Linked DNA regions of Homo sapiens: region 2 is reported to be linked to region 1. Evidence: microRNA targets listed by miRTarBase, many of them from high-throughput screens and not tested one by one. Region 1 holds a microRNA gene; the other region holds the end of a gene's coding sequence.
Evidence for each region. The annotated mature microRNA hsa-miR-7515 reads AGAAGGGAAGAUGGUGAC and lies in region 1 at 2,280-2,297, shown strand. An mRNA with a match to its seed (bases 2 to 7 or 8) in the 3' UTR can be bound and repressed. Matches are read on the target gene's strand: a 7mer-m8 pairs with bases 2 to 8, a 7mer-A1 pairs with bases 2 to 7 and ends in A, and an 8mer does both.

Region 1 (5,317 bases):
AGTGACTTGTGCAGGGAACCTGTGGTGCCCAGTGTGGGTGGCAACTCTTCCCTCATCCATGCAGCTTGGCCCTACCTTGATCATCGTCCTTTTTAGCATGAATTTATCAATTGCCCAGTATTTTCAATGGACTATAGAGGGTACAGAGAAAAGAAAAGTGAGAAATGGCATCTATATTCAAAAGATGCTGCAGAGACAGCTCCCCACGCCCAGCCTGCCTTGAGAAAAAGAAGCCACAAGAAAACTCATGCTTACAGCACAGACTAGGTGTTGAAGGCAGGTGGTGCAGAAACTTAGGAGGAGCGGCACTGAAGACTAAGGAGGTCCAGAGACCATAGAAAAGTTATTGGGAGAAGGAAGGACTTGAGCCGGTATTTGAGGAACATTGTTAAGGTCTAGACTGACAGATTAAGGGAGGAAGATCACCTCGGACAAACAGCCGACAGGAGTCTCTGCCCCTTGGAAGCAGCTCTAGCAGGCTGTTGTGTAATGGAAATGCTGACTTTCACTTATACAGTACATTTCTATAAAATTATCAATACGAGAAGCTGTCTAAAAAGGAGTGAGGTATTTTTTCATCAGTGAAGAGGCTGGTTGCATGTGCTATTTCTTCCTAGAAAGCAGGAACTGGGTCCAGAATTGGTCTGGCTTCAGAAAACAAAAAAGCCGTTGCCAAGTCTAGGGTTTGTACAGCTCTCCAGTGGAGTTATGAAAAGCCCGGTTAGAACATAAAGAACGGTCTGTTCTGTGGGAGGCAATACAGCTTCACCGAGGGGAGAGGGAAAGTAAGCCTGTATCAGTCATATTTCCATCCCTGGGAGACCATTAGGAGAAATTCAATTAAAACCCATGACTTCTACCAAATCTCTATGGCCAGTTTGAAGAGACTAATTCTTAGAAAAAGCTGACTCCAGCATTATCTGTCTTTAGCTGAGCTGTTATGAAAAGAATATAAGAGTAACAAAAAAAATGGTATGTGCTTTTATTAAAACAAAACATAACAACAACATAATGCTGTTGCAGAAACTTGGAGATGCTGCAAATGTAGGTCTGTTCTGCTTGTTGGCTTTACCTCTCTCTCGTTCCTTCCTTCTTCCTCCTCATTCTTCATCTTTCTTCCTCATTCTAAGCAGAACATTTACAAAATTCAGGCTTTCTGTAGGGTGAAGAGCTGAGCTTCAGTTCTTCTCTGGGGCAGAATATTAGCAAGGACAGTGAGCTTAGTTTTGACTGATTCTGGCATCTTCACAAAGCAAAAACCAAAGTATTGACGTAAGAAAACTGGATTGGGAGTTGGGAAAGGTTATGACTTAATGATAAAGGAATTAAAGAGACACATTGGCATTATTTTTTTCTCCTGACACCTGCACAATGCCAAAAGATAAATCAGAACAGAAAACATTAAAATTGGAAAGGAACTTAGAGACCACCTAGTCAAGGGATGACAGATTCCACAGCCAGTACCATCTCTAAGGTATTGGCATTGATAATCGCTTCTCTCTGGAACTTTGTGTTGAGTAGGATTCTGAGGCTCAAGTTAAACTCACCAGGATTGACTCTTCTGATCAGAGAGCAATGCCTAGTCTTAGAGAACAGAAGAGGCAGGGTCCGCATCTGGTATTAGCATTCTTTATTTAGTTCAACAAAGTCACATGGAGACAATATGTTACATCCTGACTTTAAACATTAGTTCAGAGAAGAAAAGTTGCTGAGATCCCTGCTGCAGTTATCCACGACTACATAACAAACCACTACCAAACTTTGCGTCCTAACAACAGTGATTTATTATTTTGCACAGCCTTGTGGATAATGAGCTTAGGGTGCAGGTTGGGGAGACTGGTGGTTCTCACATGATAACTCAGAGCTCCCAAGAAAGCAAATGTGGAAGCATCTAGACCTCTTAAGGCCCTGTCTAGAATTGTCTGGGCAGCATTTTCATCACATTCCACTGGTAAAGGTGTTCTTACCTTGTATGTGCCTGCAGGGATGAGAGAATTTTGGCCATCTTTGCAGATAATCCACCACAGTCCCTCCATGCTGCCTTCATGCAGCAGGTAGGTGAGTACTCCACAGGCTTTGCCACCCAGAACAGGGAAGCCAAACTGTCAATCTCAAGTCCCTAATCTGTGACCTGCTTATAATTCTTACTCCACAGTTATCATGGTGAAGACCAACGAGATGATGAACATGTAGCACATATCTGTATCACGAGAATTCCACGAGAAGAGCTCAAACTTTTATCATTTCATTTATGCCTGTTAGCATGAAAAAAGAGGCTGAGAAGGGAAGATGGTGACAAGGAATTGCTAAGCAGCAGGTCACATGGGTCACCCAGCGTGGACCGGCCTGAACACAGCTTCCATGTCCCCACTCTTGCCAATGTTCTCATGTGGACACAGCTGGCTTTGTTACATCAGAATGAAGGCCTCCCTTATGATGGCTCAGTGTTTCCATAGAAATGTCCAAGGAACATGATTATAGAGTCAGTCCATTCATTAACACAGAGGGTTAGGGGTTGGGAAAATCATCTAATCCAACAGCCTTATTTTGAAAATGAAGTTTCCAAGCCCTAGACGTTCATGGAAGCTCATGAAAGGCTCCTAATCACAGTGCCCTTTCCGCGGTAACATGGGCTCCTTATTTAGTTCCATTCAGAAAACCTGAAGAGAGGCCTCCCTGGCCAACGGTAGTGGGGATTAGAAGCAGTCCGTTTCTGTTAATATTTATATTCTATTTTAATAAAGCCTGGCTTCTTACAATCAAGTGCAACCTAATTTGTCCAGAGCCGACACTCCCGAGTGTACAGAATCCCCATTTGATTTTGCTGTTTGGAACGTTATCCACTCAATGGTTTCTCTAAACAACAGTGAAAGTCCCCATCCACCATGAACCTGCAGAGCATAACTGGATATTTTCTGGCCAGTTGGCTCATTGCCTACAGCAGAAATCTTCAAGCAGAAGCTACTGAAACAAGGACACTAATTTGCTAAGCCAGGAAGTTTTTCAAAGTCCATGATCCAGAAACACCAAAAATAGAAAAACCAACACAAAAATAAACAAATAGAAAAGTGGCCCATGCCTGTAATCCCAGCACTTTGTGAAGCCAAGGTGGGTAGATCACCTGAGGTCAGGAGTTTGAGGCTAGCTTGGTCAACATGGTGAAACCCTGTCTCTACTAAAAATATTTAAAAAATTAGCCAGGCGTGGTGGCGGGTGCCTGTAATCCCAGATACTCAGGAGACTGAGGCAGGAGAATTTCTCAAACCCGGGAGGCAGAGGTTGCAATGAGCCCAGATGGTGCCACTGCACGCCAGCCTGGGCATCAAGAGCGAGACTCCATCTCAAAAAAAAAAAAAAAAAAAAAAAAAGCCAGAGATTTTCTTAGATAAGTATGTGGAAGGATCCCAACATCTAAATGTTTCTACATCATGAGATGAAAGGAAATTAATGATGATCTCTTTTTTTTTCTTTTTTTTTTTTTTTCCAGATGAAGTCTTGCTCTTGTTCCCCAGGCTGGAGTGCAATGCTGCCATCTCGGCTCACCACAACCTCCGCCTCCTGGGTTCAAGCAATTCTCCTACCTCAGCCTCCCGAGTAGCTGGGATTACAGGTGTCCGCCACCACGCCCAGCTAATTTTTGTATTTTTAGTAGAGACAGGGTTTCATCTTGTTGGCCAGGCTGGTCTCGAACTCCTGACCTCAGGTGATCTGCCCGCCTCGGCCTCCCAAAGTGCTAGGATTACAGGTGTGAGCCACCGTGCCCAGCTGATGATCTCTTTATAGTAATTTCTGACATACGTATATCTTCAGGGTTGACATACAGATTATGCTTTTCATTCACACAACTTTCAGGTTAAGTCTGACTGGTGTTACTACCCACACACCATAGAGGAGGAAAGGTAGGCTCAAAAAAACTGACTTGCCCAAAACAAGTTAGATGGTGGGACACAAGATAGAAAGTGGGGAAGTCAAGACTGAAGCACCCACCTCCTGGCTCCATCACAGCCATGTGTGCTGATATCTGGGCAGCTAAACGTAGAGTGCTGGAGCCCACATGGGGTGTATGGCTGGGGAATTTTAGCTTTACTCTCATTTCTAGCATCTATGTTGGAAAAGCATTTTGTGTTTTATGCTTTTATTGTATATTCAGCCAGTCAAGAGTCATAGTCTATTTCATTCAGGCTTATGCCACTCACTAATGTCAGTAGAAGCCTATTCGTTTCTTAGAAATTGTAGTGGAAGATGTAGAAAGTACACTTGTCAAATTTGGGCATGATTCATCTGTGAGAGGAACCTTGTGCATGCAAACTCAGTAACAGCGTTCACAAAAATCTGGACAGGCTTGAAAGACAGGCTGAAAATAACATTGCAGCAGGAGGAAATGTAATGGTATGAACCTGAATTCAGAAGGCAACTGCCTAAAGGTGGACTAAATAGGTTTAATAGAAATTGCTTTAAAAACAACCAGGAAGGATGGTTAGCATTAGTTAGCTTTGCAGTCTGCATGAGCTTATGGTATGAAGGGTGAGTCAGAAGGTTATAGCCCCTTAAGCCACAGTAAGAGAGTTTGGGTGTTCTGAATGAGGGGGACACATCTGCTTTCTCACTGTTGGATGCAGCAGCGCTTTTGACTCATTTGTGCAGAAGAAAGCCCTGGGAACTGAGCTGTATTTGAAGAATGAACGAAGGATCTGTTAACATTTAGCCCAAAGAAGAAAGGATACATTAGATAAGACTGAATGGATGTTTTCAGATCATGGAAACATTTCCAACCTAGACAGTCAACTGATGAAGGACTCGGGAGCCAGGTACTCAAGCAAGTGGAGGAGGCCCCCACGCTGGGCATATAAGTCGAGTAATTCAGGGTCCTGAGCTCACGGACAAGCTACAACGCCGCTCCCAACTCCTGACTCCAAAATCAGAACCCATGACTCTCTGAAAGAGATATCATGGAAGCAATTGAGAAGGTAATTGGTTTCAGAAAGTTTCAAAAAGCAAAGCACAACAACTAAACAGTGCTGATTGAAATTAGCTGAGCACATACACATGTTTCAACCCAGAAAAGCAATTCCACTTTAAGTACTTCATGTCAGTAAAGCACTACCTCTGATCTGGTAAAATAACACTCCTGATATCCCATGACTCCATGCGTGACTACATTTTGCATTCCTTGCACAGACAGATTTTCATACTGACTAGACAGGGATTATGAGCTGTGTGTCAACTCCTTGCCGTTGAATTGGTTTCTGCATTTCTGTGGAACATACTCTAAAATTCATGAGATTGGAGATGCTCTCTGTACAGGCTCATGTAGGCA
Region 2 (5,000 bases), not on the chromosome of region 1:
CCGCCGCCGCCGGGGAGAGGCCGAACGCGCAGCCGGCGCGGGTCCCTGAGAGAGCGCGGCCGCCGGGCGGTCGGTCCCCGTCCGGGTCGAAGCCAGGGTGAGGGGCGCGCCGGGGCGGGGGCGGTGGGGGAGGGGGTCCCAGGCCGCCGAGAACAAAGGGAGCGGGGGCAGGGGCCGCGGGGACCGTCCCCACGCCGCGCGCCCGGGCCGCGGCCGCGCTTTCGCACCTGTTGTGTGCGGCCCAGGCCGGGCGCGGCTCCGTTTCCCGGCTCTCAGCGCCCCCACCTGCGCGCACGGCCAGAGTTGGGTCCCCGCGTGGTGGTGGCGGCGATCCGGCGGGCCGGGCATGGGCGTAGCCCGGGGACCGAGGCGCGGGCGGGGGATGGGGTCGGGCACGTTAAGGGAGGCGGCGGCGGCGGCGGCAGGAGGGGGCGAAGCGGAGGAGGCGCGGGAGGGAGGGCGCAGCCTCATCCCCGGCGCCCGGGGCGGGTCCCCTCCTCCGCAGGGCGCGCGGCGATGTGAGCCATGAGCGCGACGTGGACGCTGTCGCCGGAGCCCCTGCCGCCGTCGACGGGGCCCCCGGTGGGCGCGGGCCTGGACGCGGAGCAGCGCACGGTGTTCGCCTTCGTGCTCTGCCTGCTCGTGGTGCTGGTGCTGTTGATGGTGCGCTGCGTGCGCATCCTGCTCGACCCCTACAGCCGCATGCCCGCCTCGTCCTGGACCGACCACAAGGAGGCGCTCGAGCGCGGGCAGTTCGACTACGCGTTGGTGTGAGGGGCGCGGCGCCCCCTAGCCGGCCCTGCGCCGGGGTCTCAGAGGGCCGGCCCGGCGGGGGGCGCCGCGGGGCCAGGACTGCGCTCAGGATCCCGCCCCGGAGCCCCCAGCCCGGGGGAGAGGGGGAGGGAGTTGGGAGAAGCCCAGCCCCTCCCCCTCGAGACCCCTCCCATGTCCCTTCCTGGCCTGGCCGGAGCCCCACCTCGTGCCTTTATCCGCCCTGTCCCTTCCTCTCTGCGCATCTCACCCGCCCGGCTGGCCCCCACCCCCGACTCTGAATCCCGGGCGGGAGGAGGACCCCCGCACCGCCCCCTCCCCAGCGTGTAAGTGGCTCTGCTATTGTGCGTCCCTGGAAGTGGGGACCCCCTTGTCCCTCCTCCCTCCCCTGTTGTCTGGCCGTCGTCAACCCCACCTTGACTGAGTGTTGAGCCCGTCCTTGGGCTCTGGTCCCTGCGGGGCAGGCTCTCCCGGGCCCACGGGGCGGACGCTGCATACCAATTTGCCCTGCACCGCCTGTCCCGGAGACGGAGCCCGAAGGCCTGCCATGGCGGCTGTGTCGAGGATGCGTGGCGCCTGCCGTGGCGGGACAGCGTGGGCAGGCTCATTTCTGCCCCCAACCCGGGCCCCAGGACAGGTCAGCGCGCCCTGCCCCGGTGCCCACCGCTGCCCCCCATCCGCCCTCCTGCCACTTGCCCCTGACCCCCCTGCCGTGCCTCCCGCAGCCCTCCCATGCCGTTCCACTCCTCCCTGCCTCTGAGCCGAACATGATAATAAAAGCTATTATTGAGCGCTTACTGCATGCCAAGTAGCGTGCTGAGTTGGCACCTCCTGTTTATAGCCTGTCTCCTCTTCGGGATCGTGAGAATGAGCCAGGCCCTGTTAGCATCCCTATTCTACAGGCCAGGAGACCGAGGGCCAGGCAGCTCCAGTGACTGACTTGCCCACAGTCACATGGCTAGAGTCTGGTAGGGCTGGAAGTGGAACCCAGGTCTGGCTTTTGCATGTTTTTAAAGCTTCCCAGGGCTGCAAAGACACCAAGATCACAAGCACCTTTCACCGGCTTTGGGGGGGGGGGCTGATGTGTAACCCCCAGCTGCCTCCCCTCCACACACAATTCTGTTGATCTGGGGAGGCGCCGGGGGTGGTGAGAGAGACTCAGCCCTGTGGGGAACTGGGAGGCGCACCCTCTGCCAGCCCTGGAGGGAGGCTCCGACGACCGACCGTACCTGCAGCCTAAGCCTCCTCCCCCTGCCCACCACCATTGGCAGCGTTTGTGGGTCTGGTGCGGTGGGGCGGTGACCACGGACGGAGTGGGCTGGCTGTGCTCCAAGGCCCTCCCAAGAGATGTGCACCCCAGGGGAGCCGTGTGCAGTGTGTGGGGGGAGGAATGAGCGTTTCTATAAAAGGCAGGCTGGGTGAATGCACAGGCTCCGAGAACGGAGAATTTACCGACTTGGATTACTAGCTGGGCGTGGGACGCGGTGCCGTGGGAGGACATCTGCTTCCCTCTCTAGGACCCGACCCTCGGTCCACACCCACAGGGCAGGTGAAGCTGATGGAGGGGGCCTCAAGCGGGGTCCCAGCACCCCCAGGGGTTTGGGGTCAGCCCTGACTCCAGTACCCCTCCCTCCCCGCCTTCTAGGGATCCTTGAGGTCCCAAAGCCACCCCAGGGGACACTCCACTCCCACTAGCCTCCTGCCACTCGGGGCAGCCCACCCCTATCTATCTTCCTCTAACCGCCCAGCCTGGGGCTCAACTCCTTCCACCGGGTCACCCCCACTCTCTGCTGCCTTCTCCCCTCCACCTGTGCGATGTGATTTTGCCCTACTCTGAAACCCATCCCTGACGCCTGTCCCCAAGGTGCCCTGCCGGCTCTCCCCATCCACACTTGTCAGCTTCACAGTCACCAAGGGGCTCCTCACCCCAGGCCTCATCACACCAGTCAGGTGGCAGCTCTCCTCCCTGGCACACACCCCCAGCCCTGTGACCCCCAAGCTCTGACACTTCAGGGCCCCCACTTCCATCTTTAAGTCACAGGTGAAAGAGAAAGAGAATGATAACTTTATTCATGGTCACAGAATACCCCCGGGAAGGGGAAGGACCTGGCAGCAGGGAGTAACCACGACTGGTCAGTTGAAGAAGGTGAGGATGCTGGCCCCGAGGTGTACAGGAAGGGGGAAAATGTGCGAGGGCCTTTACGGTGGGCAGTGCCAGCTATGGCCCCCCAGCAGACAACAAGGCACAGTGGGGCTTGGGGACTGGGGGAGGCCAGCCCTGTCCGCCTGTCCTTGACATCAGGAGGCTTGTGAGTGGAGTCCTGCAACCCCCACCCAACCCCTGTACAACGGGGGTTCCATTTCTGAGACCCCCAAAGTATGGGGCATCTTAGAGGCCCGCCCCACAGCTGAGCATCATCTCAAGGACCTTCCCCCATGACGGGATCCTCAGAAAGAGCCAGGGCCAGCCGAGCAGAACCGAGGGGCAGGGCGGGGGGCCTGGTGTGGCCTCCTGCCCGCCATGCCCCTCACCTGGCAGGGGTGGCTGCCCGACCCAGAAGCTCCAGGGGCACCAGGAACGGGTTCAGGGGACAGATCCCAGCTGCTTGCCAAGGCGATTTCAGTTCGCTGTGCTCGGCCTTCTCGGTGGCTGGGGGGGTCTCCTCTGGTGCCTTGGAGCCAGCCCCATCCCCTTCTGCTGCAGGCCCCAGGCTCCCTCCAGCGGGAATGGGCTGGGGGGCTGTCAGGCGTAGGTACGTCTCCGTCATATGCTCAACCAGGGCTGTGCAGGGCAGGAGTGGCAGCTCCTCTGGAAGTGACATGAGCAGGTCGAGGACCACAGCGGACTCTAGTGATGGATGGAGGAGAGGGGTAAGGGGACACCCCTGCCTGCTGCCAGGGACCCTTGATCCCTCTGCTCCTGCCCCCTCCCTCACCCTTCTCACCAGCTGCTGAGAGCTCGGGGCTGCGGCCACTTCGGGAGACAGAGGACAAGTACTTGTAGATCTTCTCAAAGTCCACAGCAAAGTCTTCTTCAGTGGAGGGACCAGCCGACGACTCAGAAGGTTTCTCAGGGGCAGGGTCAGGAGTCCTGGGTGCGGAGCTAGGTGCAGCAGGGGCAGAGCTAGGTATTTCAGGGGCGGGGTCTTCCTGTCCTCCAGGGGCGCTCAGGAGCAAAGGCTTTCCACGGGCCTGCGTGGGCTTGGGGGGCTTGGAGTGCAGGAGGGTGACCGGTTCCGTGGCCGCGATGGTGAGCACCTGGCAGGCAGAACAATCAGGGAGGAAGAGGAGCTGGGAAGTCTTCTCACCGTCTACACATTCCCCCATCCTCCCTGCCACCCTAAGATGCTCCTCAGACAAGAGATGGCCTCAGAGCCAGGGACACTGAGGCTCGAGGTGTCCAGTGACTGACGGAGTCCACAGAGCTGGCAAAAGGGCCCAGGACCCAGGTTCACATGATTTGGCCCATGTGACCCTGTCCTCTGGGACACCCTGACCTGCCTGGGGGAATGGCGGTACCTGCGAGAAAGCCACTGCCAGGGCTTCTTCCAGTGGCCCTGTTATCTTCTCAGCCAGATCCGTCCAGACCTGAGTGAAGCCAGAGGTACAGGGTCAGCCCAGGGATCAGCCTGCAATGGCCCCCCAAGCCCTGCTCCTCCTGGGGATCCCCTAATCAGGTTATCCCCCGCAACTCCCACCTACCCACCAGGGACCTGCCCTGGACAGCCTCACCCTGTTCATCTGCCTCACCTCTATGGGGGCTGGGGGCTGTGCCTCCCGGCGCCTTGGTCCCTGAAGGCCACCCGGATGCACTTTCTGAATGGCCTCCCGGGCTACGCGGCCCTTGAGCTGCTGGAGGAAGACCCGGATCTAGAAAGGAAAGAGGCGGCGGAATGAGGCTTCTATGAGCTCAGGGCTGCAGCAGAGAAGCCAAAGCCCAATCCCTTGTATGCTCTGGGCCCCGCTACTGCGCCTTAGTCTCCTGCTGGCCCGGTGTTAGGAGTCCCAGTGACTGCCAAGGCCCCTACCCCACCCAGAGCGTGACCAGCTACCTAAGGAAGTTGTAAGGCCCAGGCCAGTTCCGGCTCCTTCACGCAGCCAGGGCCCAACCCTATGCTGACTACTACCCCGTTCAACTCCCTTCTTCGTCCCCTCTTCTCTATTCCCTCTCACTTCAAGCTCGTATCCTGTCCAACAGCATGCGTTGCTTTTCGCCCGGACTCGGCAGC

Region 2: miRTarBase lists CTXN1 as a target of hsa-miR-7515. Seed matches in the 3' UTR shown: 7mer-m8 at 949-955 and 7mer-m8 at 998-1,004.

Annotation. Positions count from the first base shown.
Region 1 is chr2:6,648,139-6,653,455 of GRCh38, forward strand. MIR7515 (microRNA 7515) reads left to right here and starts at 2,235; the gene lies at 2,235-2,301. It overlaps LINC03156 (long intergenic non-protein coding RNA 3156), which reads right to left and starts at 2,381. Exons shown (of 2, transcript NR_110497.1): 1 at 1,968-2,381; 2 at 969-1,243.
Region 2 is chr19:7,921,064-7,926,063 of GRCh38, reverse strand. CTXN1 (cortexin 1) reads left to right here. Exons shown (of 2, transcript NM_206833.4): 1 at 1-97; 2 at 506-1,573. The coding sequence starts at 526. The coding sequence ends at 774. It overlaps SNAPC2 (small nuclear RNA activating complex polypeptide 2), which reads right to left. Exons shown (of 5, transcript NM_003083.4): 2 at 4,522-4,641; 3 at 4,291-4,359; 4 at 3,717-4,029; 5 at 2,814-3,619. The coding sequence ends at 3,300. LOC124904629 (a long non-coding RNA gene) reads right to left here and starts at 659. Exons shown (of 2, transcript XR_007067120.1): 1 at 228-659. RefSeq lists silencers at 1-14, 545-634 and an enhancer at 3,896-4,498.